Homo sapiens: one gene and its partners. The protein of the gene in region 4 interacts with the protein of the main gene of each other region in a biochemical or structural test. Each region holds a gene or a part of one and is shown on either strand. Other genes may lie near its edges.

Region 1 (3,500 bases), on a different chromosome or scaffold from region 4:
CAGTGTAAGTGGCTTTTTTTCCTAAAAGGAGATCATGGTTTAGCTGATCTATCCAATATGGCAGCCACTAGCAACACGTGGCCAATTAAATGTAAATTAATTAAAAGGAAAAATTCGTTTCCTAAGTTGCACTACAGTTCATGTACGTAATAGCCACATGTGGTTTGTGGCTACTGCTCTGAACGGTACAGACACAGATCACTGTAGAAAGTGCTAATGGAGAGTGCTGGCTTAAAGGAGGAAGAAAGGAAACAGAGAAAGGAGAGAGTATGACCTAGGTTAGTAAGTCCAGAAAGTAGACCCAACAATCCTACTATCTTTGGATAATCAGAATTTATTTTTTCATATGAAAGAAATTAAAATGAATATGCTAAAGTTTTATTTATTATTATTATTTGAGATGCAGTCTCACTCTGCCACCCATGCTGGCGTACAGAGGCACGATCTCAGCTCAGTGCAGCCTCGACCTCCCAGGCTCAAGGGATCCTCCTACCTTCCCCTTCTGAGTAGCTGGGACTACAGGTGCACACTACTGCACCTGGCTAATTTTTGTATTTTTTGAAGAGATGGGGTTTTGCCATGTTGTCCAGGCTGCTCTCAAACTCCTGGGCTCAAGCGATCTGCCCACCTCGACCTCCCAAAGTGCTGGGATTACAGGTGTGAGCCATAGCGCCCAGCCCCTAAAGTTTTATTTTTCTAAATTAAATGTGTGGGGCAATTATGCTAGAAGGTTCTAAGTGCTTTACATGTGTTACTTTATTTCATCTTCATTGAAATCATAGGAGGTAGGCGATATAATAATCCCATCTTACAGAGAGTAAGTGAGACTTAGAGAGAGTGTGTGAGTTGCCCCAGGCCACACAGCAAATTCCTGGATTCCAAGCATACTTTGTCTCTCAAAAGCCAGAGCTCTTAAGGCTGCCTGTACGAACTCCATTTGGGAATGAAGATAGAGGGAAGGTGCTCTAGATACTACCACCAGTCATGCATTAACACAAGTAGTGGGCCACAGCCTCAATAAACGGCTCCTTCTTAATTAGCATTCTTTCTCCTTTTGGCCTAATATTTTATGTTGGGCATGATTATTTTCTATTAGTAATGTAATAGTATTGCTTTCTAACCCCGTTCTTATCCCAGCCCTCCACCTATCCGCCTCTGAACCTTCCAAGTCTAGCCGTTCCTTTTCATCTATTTCTCCTGACAGTTTATGATAACGCCCTGAACCAGTTCAACATCTCTCAAGCTTCAATTGAGAATGGAGTATTTACCACAGAGAGTACCTGTGCTGTTCCAACATTCTTTCATACCTACAACTATTGGTCTGTTAAATATTTTTTAAATAATCAATGGCTTCATGTTATGGGAAGAAATTCTAACTGAATAGTTAAGTATTTAATGTGCTCAAGGCTGAGCTGTGATACAGAATTATTTCCTCTTAGATATAAGAGGTCCAGGGGAACCAGGCAGGTGCTCTTCCCCTTAGTTCAGAATAGCTCAGCTTTAATGTAGTCAATGTTCCATTAAAATGCTTAGCAAATTATTTTTTATCATCTATTACATATTTTAAAGCTCCTTTTCAATTCCTCGAACGAGTGACATCCCAACAACATTGTACAAATGAGTGACATCCCAGAACACTGTACAAAGACACACTTGACTGCATTTTCTGAGGACCTTGCAGGAGCACTGAGGACAGCCACCTGCTACAGAGGCAAAGGAGGAGTGAGCATTACTTGGGCCTCCCACGCCTTACCTTCGGGGCGAGCCGTCATCATGGGGCTGGATGATGACCACCTTCACAGTCACAGAAGTACGGAGCAGGTCGATCATCTGCTCGTGGGTCAGAGTGGCCACGGCTACTTTGCAGATCTCCACGAGGCGGCTCCCTTGGCGAAGGCCAGCCTTCCAGGCAAAGCCAAAAGGTTCCACATCTGCGACAATTCCTTCAAAATTCACATGGAAGCCAAGCTGGCCCAGCCCGTTCCTCCTCAGGGTCATTTCCACAGTCTCGCAGCCTCTCGTCACTATCTAAGGGGGAAGGAGACTGTTAGAGATGCCCTTCCTGCCCAAGCTGCCATGGGGCTCTGCCAAAGGTGCACGTATGGGCCTCCATGCCAGCCCTCTCCCTTGGGCCCTCGCAGCCCAGCCTGTCTCTCTCTGCCTTTTCCTCAAACTGTCCAAGTGACAGGACAAGGACACATTTAAGTTCAGAGCTGATCACAATTAACATTTGCATCAAGTGCAAAGAAAATAACAGAAGCAAAGCAATGGTTTCATTCTTCATTCTAAGTCATATCTGTTCTTGATACAGGTGTCCTGCTTTCTTAGATGTCACTGACCCAGAGCTTGAGAGCTTCAGATGGGCTCAGATAATTCCCGTTTTTCCTTTATTAGGTAAATTGACTTGACTTTTAAGCATATAAATCCCATCGTTCTAGATGGATTTTTGCAATGGAAAACCTGTAAAGACTTTGTGGACCATTACAAGTTTCAACCAGCAAGCACTAAAAACCATGAGACAATTTATTCATCCCAAGCAAAGAAAAACACCCCAAAGCACTTGAAAGCTAACGCTTAAGAGCCCACTCTGAGGTTCAGGAAGGGCAGTGGCAGAAAGTCAGAGCTTTAGGAAAACTCTAAATGTTCTCTACGCACCAGCCCTAGGGACATACTGTGGAGTGTTCTGTCCCCTAGGGTCCTTCTCTTGAGGACAGACAACTGCCTATGCTTGCCTGAGTGGTGAGGACCACTCAGATCCATGGTGGGGGCAGGCCAGCCAGACTCCTTGGCCATCTGTTCACAAGGCAAGTGTGTAGGATGGTGCTCTGGCAGGCAGCAGACAGACCCTCTGTGCTTATGGGCTGCCTCTCCTCCACTAGGCCTGTCTCCTAGGGGCTGAGGGCAGCCCCAAGCAATGGAAGCCTCAGTGTATGTACCTTACTCAAGAGTGAGAGAGAGTCAACAGCAGTTCCACAAAAAGGAACATGAAAGAAGAATGGTGGATTGCATCCCACTTGGTACATTAAAGCACCACTAATGCAGCCCTCAAAAGCACTCACCGAGCATAGTTTACATCCAATGAAAGAAAAACATGGGCTCATTAAGTATCACCCGATGACTATGACCTCACCTATCTGTGGGAATTTCAAGTTGGGAGGTATCATACTCCTATCCCCAAAAGCCCAGAGGCAATGTATGAAGTTTCAGTTTAATGAACACTCCATTTCTATGAAACATGCTCTGACTACATAGATACCTATTTAATAAGACCTATGACAGTAAGTACAGCTGTGGGACTGGGGCTGGTTCATGTATCACCACTGTGTCTGATGTTTCCATGGTTACCACAAGTGCACACAATGCCAATCAGCTTTTCCCAGACAGGCATGACAGTTCACGACTCAGCAAAATGCGGAAAGGGGACTGCTGGTTTTAGTTAGTGATGATGTTTTAGAATATTGACGTTTCTAAAGTCATGAACTGAAGTAACTAAAACTTGA
Region 2 (3,500 bases), on a different chromosome or scaffold from region 4:
TATTACTCCTTCACATTTCTGTTGTTCATAATGACAATAAACACCTCATCCCATCACTATTTGACCTTCCTCAGAAAGAACCACTGACTGTTAGAGGGAAAAATCATTTGCCACAGGTGAATGACAAATAACTTGTGACTCGCTTTGTGGTTTCTCTCTTTGAGAGATAGAAAATATTACTTTCCTGCTTTTAAGGAACATACATGTTTTAAAAGTTGATATAGAGGGAGTCCTTGCTATCTGAGATTTTATATTGGAAACCTTGCAGTTACAAAGCTTAAAGGGAAGCAAAATTCATCATAAAGAAACAAAGAAAAACATCACCAAAGACAAAATCTTGCTATAAAATTATCCGTCATCAAACATCTGAACCTGACAACTCCTTGTTTCTGCTCACCATCCATGTTTTTCCTCTCCTGTACCTCTGACTCCAGCAGTATGTCCTGCCTGGGATGCCCATCTGCCTGTTCTTCTGTCAGTCCGTCCATCCATCCATCCATCCATCCATCCATCCATCCATCCATTCATTCATTGATTCACTCAGCAGCAGTTATTGAATATCTTCTGTGTGCCAGGATCTGGGCTGTATAGGTATACCCTAGACATGTCTCAGAGTGCAGCTCAAATGCCACCTCTTCCAAGTACCAGATGCGTCCCTGATTCCCTATTCCCTGCCCTACAAAGGTGAAACTGCTCTCCCCCTTCTCTGTGTGTCCATAGCACTTCCTGGGCGCTTTCTAGATATTTAGCATTAGCTCATTAAGAATGCCTGGCAATACGACTTCTCTTTTAGAGGACAGTCCTAAGTTCTGCTAGTGGAGTTGGTGTCTTATTTGTCTCAAGAGGAGAATTGGTGTCTGCTCAGTTCTGCATCTTTCTCCATGATGCTTAGGGCTGACCCAGTTCGTGACCAACAACTAGAGTCTTCTCTTTCTCTTTTTTACATACTCCTTCTCTTCCAGGGCTAAAGTTGCTGCAGCTGATGGGCCCGCCAGGAACCCAACTCAGACCCTCATCCCTGTGCGACACACAGTAAAGATAGACAAAGACACCCTCCTCCAGGACTATGGATTTCACATTTCTGAGAGCCTTCCCCTTACAGTGGTGGCTGTCACAGCAGGTAGGGGATGACTGGGAAATGAGAAAGGAGTTTGGTTTCTTAAGGGGAAATAGCCCCAAATCTCCCCGATCTCTCTATCCTATAACAAAATGCAGAAAATCCTACCTGGGAAGTTAGAAAAGGCACACCTAATTCTGTCTTGGGCTTTGCACCTTACTTTGATGCTGGGAGGGAGGAAGCCTCAAGTGCACTTGCCGCTCCAAACCCCAGGCTCCCACTGGCCTTGGCTAGGGCGTTGCCCACCCTTGGCTCCCTGGCTGGTCTCAGGGGCAGTGAAAGTATTTGGCTAAGCTAGCCTTCCTCTTTGAACCCCACACGCTCCTAGCTGGGGATACTTTCTGGTCAGACAGTAATAGAAACCATTGATTTGTTTTCATTTGAACCTTGTGAAATACAGGCTGTACCAGGGTGGAGAGGAGCAGGTGGGGAAAGTCCAGTGCTTGTTTTCATAATTGAGGTGTGTTAATCTGGGATTCGTTAAAATGTATTGATTTCTATTTACTACACATACACACCAGAGTTTTTTAGAGATGAATGGAGTAGATTTACTGGCCAACTCTATTGATTTAGAAGGTTTCTGCTAGTTTTCTTTCTCAGGACAGTCTTCTAACATCCCTGGAAGTTGGTGATAGATGATAGGTACATTATCCATGGTTTATAAACAGGAAAATTAAGATCCACATGAGCCCAAGCCTGACTGAAGGCGGGGGAGTGAGCCAGTGCCCCTGGGAACTGGATCAGGGTGCCATTTAACTGTGCCGCTATTACACATAGAGTCTGGGTCCTCCCGGCATGAGCACCAATTACTTATTTTCTGTCCAACAGGAGGCTCTGCTCACGGCAAGCTTTTCCCTGGTGATCAGATCCTCCAAATGAACAATGAGCCTGCTGAAGACCTTTCCTGGGAACGAGCAGTCGATATTCTCAGGTACTAAATGGTCTTCCATCATCTACAGAATTGCACAGATTATCAAAGAACAAAGATGGGCAACAGGAATGGCATAACTGATCCCCTGATTTTAATAAGGCTAAGTCTCCTTTAAAGCAGCAAAAACAGCCTCGTTTTAGAGTTCCATCTATTAAAACGGCTTCTTGTTAGTGGCTGTTACAGTCCACTCTCTCTCACTTGCCTACAAAAGAGCTTGGGAGGCACAGAGTGCTGTATTTGTCAAAGCCCTGCTATGCCCAAGACACCGTGCTAAGCATGCAGGGAATGTAATGATCATAAATAACCCACAGGCCCTACCCTCTAAGGATTTATAGGCACGTTGTAACATATGCCAAAGATTGAACTAAATTGATGCCAAATCTGTTCTTCTTTATCCCTCTTGATATATCTTCTTAAATATAATTGCAGGTGCATCTTGGTTGGCATATATGTAGTTTCATTGATGTAGCACCTCCAAACCTTCTGTCTGGTGTCATTGTGACTTATGAAAATGCCTCGCTTTTTACCTAGACAATGATTTCCTGAGACCAGGGCTCAGTGGGTGCTCAGTTAAATGAGTGAATATGGTTAGCGCTGGGAATTGGCAACCCAGACTTTAAGACGGAGGAGTGCCATTGATAGGAGTGAAGAGGACAAGCAGACATTTTAAGGGCACATGAAGCTTTGGCTTTTAAATTTTTCACTCAACATTGTTCTAATGACTAGTATAAAGACAGACGAGAATCAGAGGTAGATGAAAGCTAACTTGAAGAGATATATATATATATATAAAATTCAGTTTGTGATTTTTCATGAATGGCTGATCTGGCTTTGGGGTGGTATTAATTGTTTTTTTTTCCCTTTTTTTTTGAGATGGGGACTTGCTGTGTTGCCTAGGCTGGTCTCAAACTCTTGGGCTCAAGTGGTCTTCCCATCCCAGCTACTCGGGTGGCTGAGGCAGGAGAATCGCTTGAACCCGGGAGGCAGAGGTTGCAATGGGCCACGATTGTACCACTGCACTCCAGCCTGGGTGACAGAACAAGACTCCATCTCAAAAAAAGAGAGAAAGAAAAAGAAAAGAAAAGCCAAGGAAATACACTGTAAATGCTGGAGAGTCCTCCAACTTGGGCAGAAGTTGTAGGCTGACAAAACAGAGAAGGGCCCAGAAATATTTCAGTTGTGTCTTTAATGCTGGGTAAAATTTGGTCCAAAAGATGGAGGTGAAGGGTGATTCAGGCAAAGAGGTAAACAGAAGCAACTGGGTGGGAAGTAGGGGCTGCTGAGCAGTTCAGTTTGCCTGCAGAAAAGTTCTAGGAAGTGAAGTCCAGATGATAGAAGGTCTTGAATGCCAGCACAGCATGTTTCAGTGTGATTCTCCCCCTGGAAGGGCGAGCAGTTGAAGGCTTCTGAGCAGGGATGCATGACTTGAGGTGTGCTGTGCATCTGTACCCT
Region 3 (3,500 bases), on a different chromosome or scaffold from region 4:
GGGGTTCAGCCTGTGAGCCATCTCTTTTCCCAGCTGTCAGAGACTTGACTGCGTGCTGCAAAACAAGTCATACTACTGTGCGCAAAGAGTCAGTGGGCAGCAGGCGAGGCCTCGAGAGACTTCCCTAGGCATCTCAGGGTGTGCCCTTGGTGGCCTCTTGTGGAAGTCAAGAAGCCATTCTTGATAGGCGAGTTGCCAGATGAGAGGCTTCTGAGCACCCAAGACCCCCTGGCATAGTCAGAAAGGTGCCCGGAAGGAATGCTGCAGTGTTTGCTGATGCCTATTCAGAGGGGACATAGGGCCTCTCTTTCACGAACATCCTCAGATGGGGGGGAACTGAGGCAGCATCCAAACCAAGAATCAAAATAGGGTTAGAATTACAATTGGCTGTGTGACTCGAGCCTCCATTTTCCCCTCTGTAAAATGGGGGTGTCTCTCCCATGGCTGACTCCAGCTGGCCAGAGCTTGAGAAGTTGAGGGGATTACTTTATTTATAGAAAACCCCTTGGGGGGGTCAGACCCTAGGCCCCCTCCTCAGAGAACATGCTTGCTCTCTCCCACTCTCTCTTTTTTGTTCCAGGACCTGGTAATTATATGCTTAGAGATGAAGGCTTTTCAAAAACATCTTTCCCACCAATTTTCAGCTGGAAACGTGCATAAAAAACAGAGATATTTTTATCCATGTTTTTTTTTTTCCCTGTCTCCTCCTTCCAGCAACGGGCAATTATGAGCTTTTGCCTTCAGTCAATCGTCCTGTAGGAACTCGCTTCAGAGGAAAATTCATTTCCGCAGTGGTGCCAGCCAGTCCCGGCGAATGTGGGGTGTGCAAGTCAGGGGAGGAGGGACAGAGGGAGAAACGTGCTTGGAGCTCAGACCTGTGCACCTGGTACTCAGGCCCACGCTGCAGCCGGGGTGGGTGGCCTTCTTTTTTATTTTATTTCTCTTGAAATCATGGCTAATTTGCCTTCATTATCTCCCGCTCTCTGGGGCCTCAGGGGGCTATTGAGCTTTGACAAAGGGAAAAGGAAGTCAACTCCTTGCCAGGCTGCCTTCGCCAGGGTCCTGCCTAAGCGGGTGGCTGGAAAGAAGCGTGGGGGAGTGGGTGGGACTATAAAGTCAGCCGGCTTTGACTGCTGCCCTGTTCTGTGAGCCTCCTGGAGGGAGGACTCAGCATCTCAAAAGGGACCACTGAGAAAACAAATGCCCAGAGGCTCCACTTGGGGCGAACAGGACATGATTTGCAGGGACGGTGAGCTGTCGGCCAGGACCATGCCAGCTCACCGGGACCCTGGGTGCTGAAGAGGACATGGGCGCTAAGTACTCCACCAAGTGACGGTCCAGCCCCAGCCAGCTTCGCCCCACCATGGAAGGGATTGTTGATATGGTGGGAAGGGAGGGATAGGCTTTGGAGTCAGTCCAACTTGGGACTTTGATTCTAAATCGGCTGCCAACTGGCTAAGGGATCTGGGACAAGTCACTTCTCTCTGAGCCTCAGACTTCTCCTCTGCAAAATGGGGGTACTGGTGCCCACCTCATGGGTTGCTGGGAGGAACTGTGGGGAAGTGTGCACAGAAACCATAAAACATGGCAGTTCCCTCCCTGCCTGCTTCCCTCACCTTGTTGAAAGGTTTTCCTAGATCAATCATGATGATGGCTCCTAGTGATTAAGTGCTGGTTTCTGTGCTTCCTAAGCACGATCTCATTTAATCCTCACCACTTTTGAGGCGGTATAATCATGATTCTCATTTTACAGATGAGGAAACTGAGGCACAGAGAGGTTAAGTGATATCCCATGATAAAGGGCAGGGCCAGGGTTTGAACCCAGGCCTAATGAGGCACAGAGAGGTCAAGGGAACTGCCCAGGGGCACAGAGCTTCTAAGTGGCAGAGCCAGGATTGAAGCCCAGGCCTTCTGGCTCCCTAAGGGGTCTGGCCCTACCCTCTGGGTACCTTCCTGCCTACTCCCCCATCCATGCAAGCCTGGAAGTTGCTGTAATGCCTGCAGCCCCGGGGCTGTTCGGCTCCAGGCAGAGCCCCAGCTCCTTTGGGCGTTCCTCCCTGGCCACTGAGGGCTGGAACAGGCCAAGGGCTCGATGGAGATGCCTCAAAGCCAGTTACAGGCTGACCTCTGAATGACAGTTCCAATCCCCACGGGCGACAAGCCTCCCAGGAAGCCCAGCTTCCATGGGGAGAGCAGCATAGAAAGATCAGATAAGCTCGGCAGAAGCACGTTTTTCAGGGAGACAAAAAGAAATGCATCAATACATTTAAAAATTTGAAGCCTCATTCATTTGTTGCCAAGGATTGCAAAGAAAAAAATAAAGAACCTTAATAAGTAGCACCCAGTGTTGGGCCCTTCCCTGGGCCAGGCCTGCTCTAAGCACTTTATGAATGCTAAGTCAGTTAATTGTCCTAAGAACCATGGAGGGAGGCTCACCGATTGTCCCCAGTTTACAGATAGGGAGCCTGAGGCCCAGAGAAGCCACTGAGCTGGTGAGCTGCAGAGGCACCTGGAACCCAGGGCTCCCTGACCTCACAACAGACCATGCCCTGAACCCTTGGCTCTGCTCTTTCCCTCCAAACAGGAGGGCAACAGACCCCAAATGAGAAGCATCAGGGCACTGGGAAGGTGACAGCTCCAGTATCCCAAGAATACCTAAGTTAGGGCTCAGGCACTCACAGGCTGGGTGCATCAGGGCTAGCAGGACCCATGGCATCACCTGGAGAGGCCGCCACCCCCACAATCCTCCTCCACACAGGGAGAGGGGCTCCTGTCCAGCAGGCCTGAGCCACACGCAGGCCAACATCCCACCATGGGAGAGCGGGGGCGCAGTCTCAAGTTGGGGGTTGGCCTTCTGCGTTCTGGGTCCTGCTCTCCTGCCCTACTCTAAAACCAGCAATGTCAAGGAACGTGACCTCAAAATCAGGGTCACCCACAGAACCATTCAGTTTCCCAATGGCGGCTGCCTGCAGTCACAAGAAGACTGTGTCTAGCTCAGGGAGAGTAGAAGCAGAAGTCCTCACCACAACTGTCAGTCCCCGGTCCCCTGACTTCACCTCCTGATGCTCGCCCTGGCCAGCTCCACTCCAGCACACTGCATTTTCTCACTTAATCCTCATAACCACACTGCCACTTGGGCACTGTTATTCTCCCCATTTTACAGCTGGGAAAACTGAGGCATGGAGATGCTAAGTGACTTGTTCCTGGTTACACAGCCAGAAGTGACAAAGCGGAGATTTGACCCTATGGGCCCACCCCACCTTGGCAACTGCACTCTAAAGGGAGGTGAAGCCTTCCTGGACACATCTGTCCTTTCGACCCAAGGCCCACCAGACTCACATCCCCCTAGGGCCTTTGCATCGGCTGTTCCCTCTGCCCACAAAACTCTTCCCCAGACATCATCAAAACTCCCGTCTCAGCTCCTTCGGGAACTTGTAGAAATGTCACCTCCTCAGGGAGGCCTTCCCCATCCGCCTGTTGGAACTTACACACGCACCCTG
Region 4 (3,500 bases):
ACTTCTGTCTTAACTCTTCAACTGAGTATACAAAGATATTACTGATTCACAAAAGGTACAGATACAGAAAGTTTGCTCAATATCACACTTTCAAAGCTTAGCTTAGTCTTGGTGCTTGATTGGTGCCTATTAGTAGTATGATAAAGAGCATTATGAAAACTCATCTCACTATGGTTATAATCCAGGCAATTAAGTTTAAAATGAATATGAACCAATCTGTTTAAAATCTTCTAATTAATTTCTTTTTGAAATGGAGTTTCGCTCTGTCACCCAGGCTGGAGTGCAGTGGTGCAATCTCTGCCCACTGCAACCTCTGCCTCACGGGTTCACGTGATTCTCTCACCTCAGCCTCCCAAGTAGCTGGGACTACAGGCGCCCGCCACCACGCCTGGCTAATTTTTTTTTTTTTGTATTTTTAGTAGAGATGGGGTTTCACCATGTTGTCCAGGCTGGTCTTGAACTCCTAATCTCAAGTGATCCACCTGCCTCAGCCTCCCAAAGTGCTGGGATTACAGGTGTGAGCCACTGCACCCAGCCGTTAATTTCTTTACTAAGGAATTTGGTATAATGAATTATTTATCTAGCAAGTTGTATTAGAAAAGCATTTTTTTAAAGTCTAAATAGTTTTTTCCTTTGAAACATGCAGGATAAATGGTATCAGGGTCTCAGACCAGTTTACAAAAGGACAGAGGATAGGTACTAGGCACAAACAGACACGATTATCCAAGAGTAGCAGGTGAAGGTGTTCAAAACTAGAATTCAAACTCATTCATTCACTTAAGGTATGTAGAACCACTGGAGGTCAAGATTTAAGTCCTGTAGAAAGATAAAGTCCCTGCTGTTGAGTAGCTTAGAGCAGGACTATTTTCCCATGGAACTGATATACTATAGTTACACTACAGGACGGGAGATTTATGGATTAATGTTGCTTCTGTGAAAAATTATATTCACAGTTCTAAATAATATTTTGGAAGACTGACACTTGCCGATATACTATCCGAAGATTTCAGACTGACACTTATTTTTCATCTGTTGACAGTCTGAATTAGACCTTTAACATCTGAGTTGTTTATCACAGGTCTCAGACTAATAGTATTAATAGTTCTTGTGAAGTCCAGTTGGATTTTGTGATTCCTTAGTCAGTGCCTTTTTTAAACAGACTTACTGCTTATGTAGTTGTCGACAAAATGACAGTAAGTGAAAAATTCCCATCAGTGCATCATTCTGAGATTCAAAGTAAGATTCAATGAGACCATTTATTCTAGCATACATCACGAGAGATTTTGAAACATTCTGTTTATTCATAACAATGGGAGGGAATATTTTCAACAGCAAGTTTGGGCTTATAAAGGCACACAAATTACATAGAGAATAAAAGAAAAGCACAAAACACAATAAACGAAAATACTGCTGCATGAAAAATAAAAATAAGAATGTAATAAAATGGCAGGTCTTACAGCATAAATTATGGTTTCTCATAAATCATGTATTGTCATTATGATTAATTATTTCACATAGGCTATATGGTAAAGTGTTTCAAGAGATACAGCCAAAATAATCAAGTTCATGATTAAAACTTATTTTGAAATCACTATTTATCTTTGGTGCAGACTTTTCCCAAAGAAAGCTAATGAGAGTGGTTAGTGCATATCTCTAGAATCGGGTAATTTATCATGTAATACACAATTAAGCAAGTAGAAGTATGAGCTACAACCTAGTTATTTTATAGCTCATCCTTAATACTTATGAAACAATGTTACATGCTTATTTATATACCAACATTTCTAGGACAATCTTCTCTACCTCATGTGTCTTATCTTTCCCAACCAGACTGAAAAATGTATCATGGATTCCTTAAAGACCGAGACTCCCATTACTGAATCTAACACAGACAGTAAGTATCCCTGGAGGAAGTCATCTTTTTGGCCATAAGGCCTATCAGTCTGATATGGAGTAGGGGACTAAAAAATGTTGGTTAAAATGAACTAAAATGAATCATTTCAAATAAGTAGTATCGTTTTAAATAAGTATGCAAAATGAAACACAATACTGCACACACAGCAGGACTCCAACAAATATCTAAAGTACTAATTGTCTACAGTCCCCTCACTTGCACCCCTAGTGGTATACAGGAATAAAGTTACCTTTAATTCATCAAACAGTCCCTGTTTCCCACTCAACTCAGGGTACAGGTGTCAGAACACATGATCCATTTCACTGCAAAGTGGTAAATAATGGTTTCTATTTTACATGAGTGTTTACAATTCTCATGAAGGTATGGGAACAACAGCCAGTTCTTCAAGGGTTTATTTTGATCGTGACATTGACAATTCATTTAATACTGCATACAATAGTAGTATAATTAATGCTTCCCTTTGCAAATAATGTGCTTATTGCATTAGCAAAGGGGAAGAGCTAACCTCAATATTTTTAAACAATTGTTTTATAGATAAATACATACTAGAGTTCTATACGGATTTTTTTTCTCCACAAAGGAAGAGAACAGGGTCTAGGAGAAACTTTCATCACTGAATTTTTAAATTACTTTTTATAGAAGAGCACAAATCCAAGTAAAAAATTCTCCTCATGAAATCTGCCACAATTTCTGAACACTGGTAGATTGTCTATATGTAAAAATTAGACTTGAATGAAAAGTCCCTCTATTCTATGAGATATGGATTGACGAGTTCCCTATGAACCTAAAGTATTCATACAAAATGTTTTCAGAGGAGCAACTCTGTCAGTTGTTTAACTTCTCTGAGGACAAATCAAACCATCTGAGCAAGTAAGAAGTGGATCTTTCTCACTGTAACAAGACTAGTCCCTTCTAACCACCATGCTAAATCCCCTTTCTTGTTTCTATCCAACTTCTGAAAAATGTAGTCTCAATCAGAGGTGAAGCCTCCAATGTGCACAGGGGACTGGTTGTAGACAAGTAAGTCCCAGAAGTCAGGGCTGTGACAAACTGCAGATGTGCAGCTCCATAAAGGCTCACTGCTCAGCTCCTGCCCCGAGGGGCCCCAGGGATCCTCACTCCTGGAGCACTTCACCACTACCGCACAAGACACGGAGCCACTGACTCAGCCACAGAGGGGTCACAGGTTTGTCTGGCTGCGACACATATTTTCAGGAGCTGAGAATTTCAAGTATACAACTTCAATTTTCCCTCCTTATCCCAGAGGGTAAATTGTCATAAATCCTTGGGAAGACAGCATATTCTTGCTGAGGAAAAAATGTAATGGCTTGATGTTCTAAGAGTTGCGAAATGTAAGTACTAGAGGGACTCTAGAGAGCATCTAGACCAACTCCCTCATTTTATAGACAAGAAAACTAAAGCCCACGAGAGTTACATGATGTGCTCATGGGACACACACCTGCATAGTGGCAAAGCCAGGACTAGAACTAGAGCCTCTTGATATCTATTTAACCACTGTCTGTTGATTTATATCATGTATATTCCAAACCCCCTTCCTCTTTTCTAGCCTTTCTTGATTTGGGAG

Evidence for each region. Proteins that work in one complex are often made in the same cells at the same time.
Region 1: the proteins of PKP4 (region 4) and SIPA1L2 interact in a test that uses a peptide from one of them, tested with the Homo sapiens proteins (one large-scale study listed by IntAct).
Region 2: the proteins of PKP4 (region 4) and FRMPD1 interact in a test that uses a peptide from one of them, tested with the Homo sapiens proteins (one large-scale study listed by IntAct).
Region 3: the proteins of PKP4 (region 4) and GRIP2 interact in a test that uses a peptide from one of them, tested with the Homo sapiens proteins (one large-scale study listed by IntAct).

The regions. Positions count from the first base shown.
Region 1 is NC_000001.11:232,459,134-232,462,633, forward strand, and holds part of SIPA1L2 (signal-induced proliferation-associated 1-like protein 2), read right to left. Parts: intron 2,029-3,500; coding exon 1,754-2,028; intron 1-1,753.
Region 2 is NC_000009.12:37,706,454-37,709,953, forward strand, and holds part of FRMPD1 (FERM and PDZ domain-containing protein 1), read left to right. Parts: intron 1-962; coding exon 963-1,120; intron 1,121-1,945; coding exon 1,946-2,048; intron 2,049-3,500. UniProt on the Homo sapiens protein: Stabilizes membrane-bound GPSM1, and thereby promotes its interaction with GNAI1.
Region 3 is NC_000003.12:14,533,843-14,537,342, forward strand, and holds part of GRIP2 (glutamate receptor-interacting protein 2), read right to left. Parts: intron 1-3,500.
Region 4 is NC_000002.12:158,463,452-158,466,951, reverse strand, and holds part of PKP4 (plakophilin-4), read right to left. Parts: intron 1-3,500. UniProt on the Homo sapiens protein: Plays a role as a regulator of Rho activity during cytokinesis. May play a role in junctional plaques.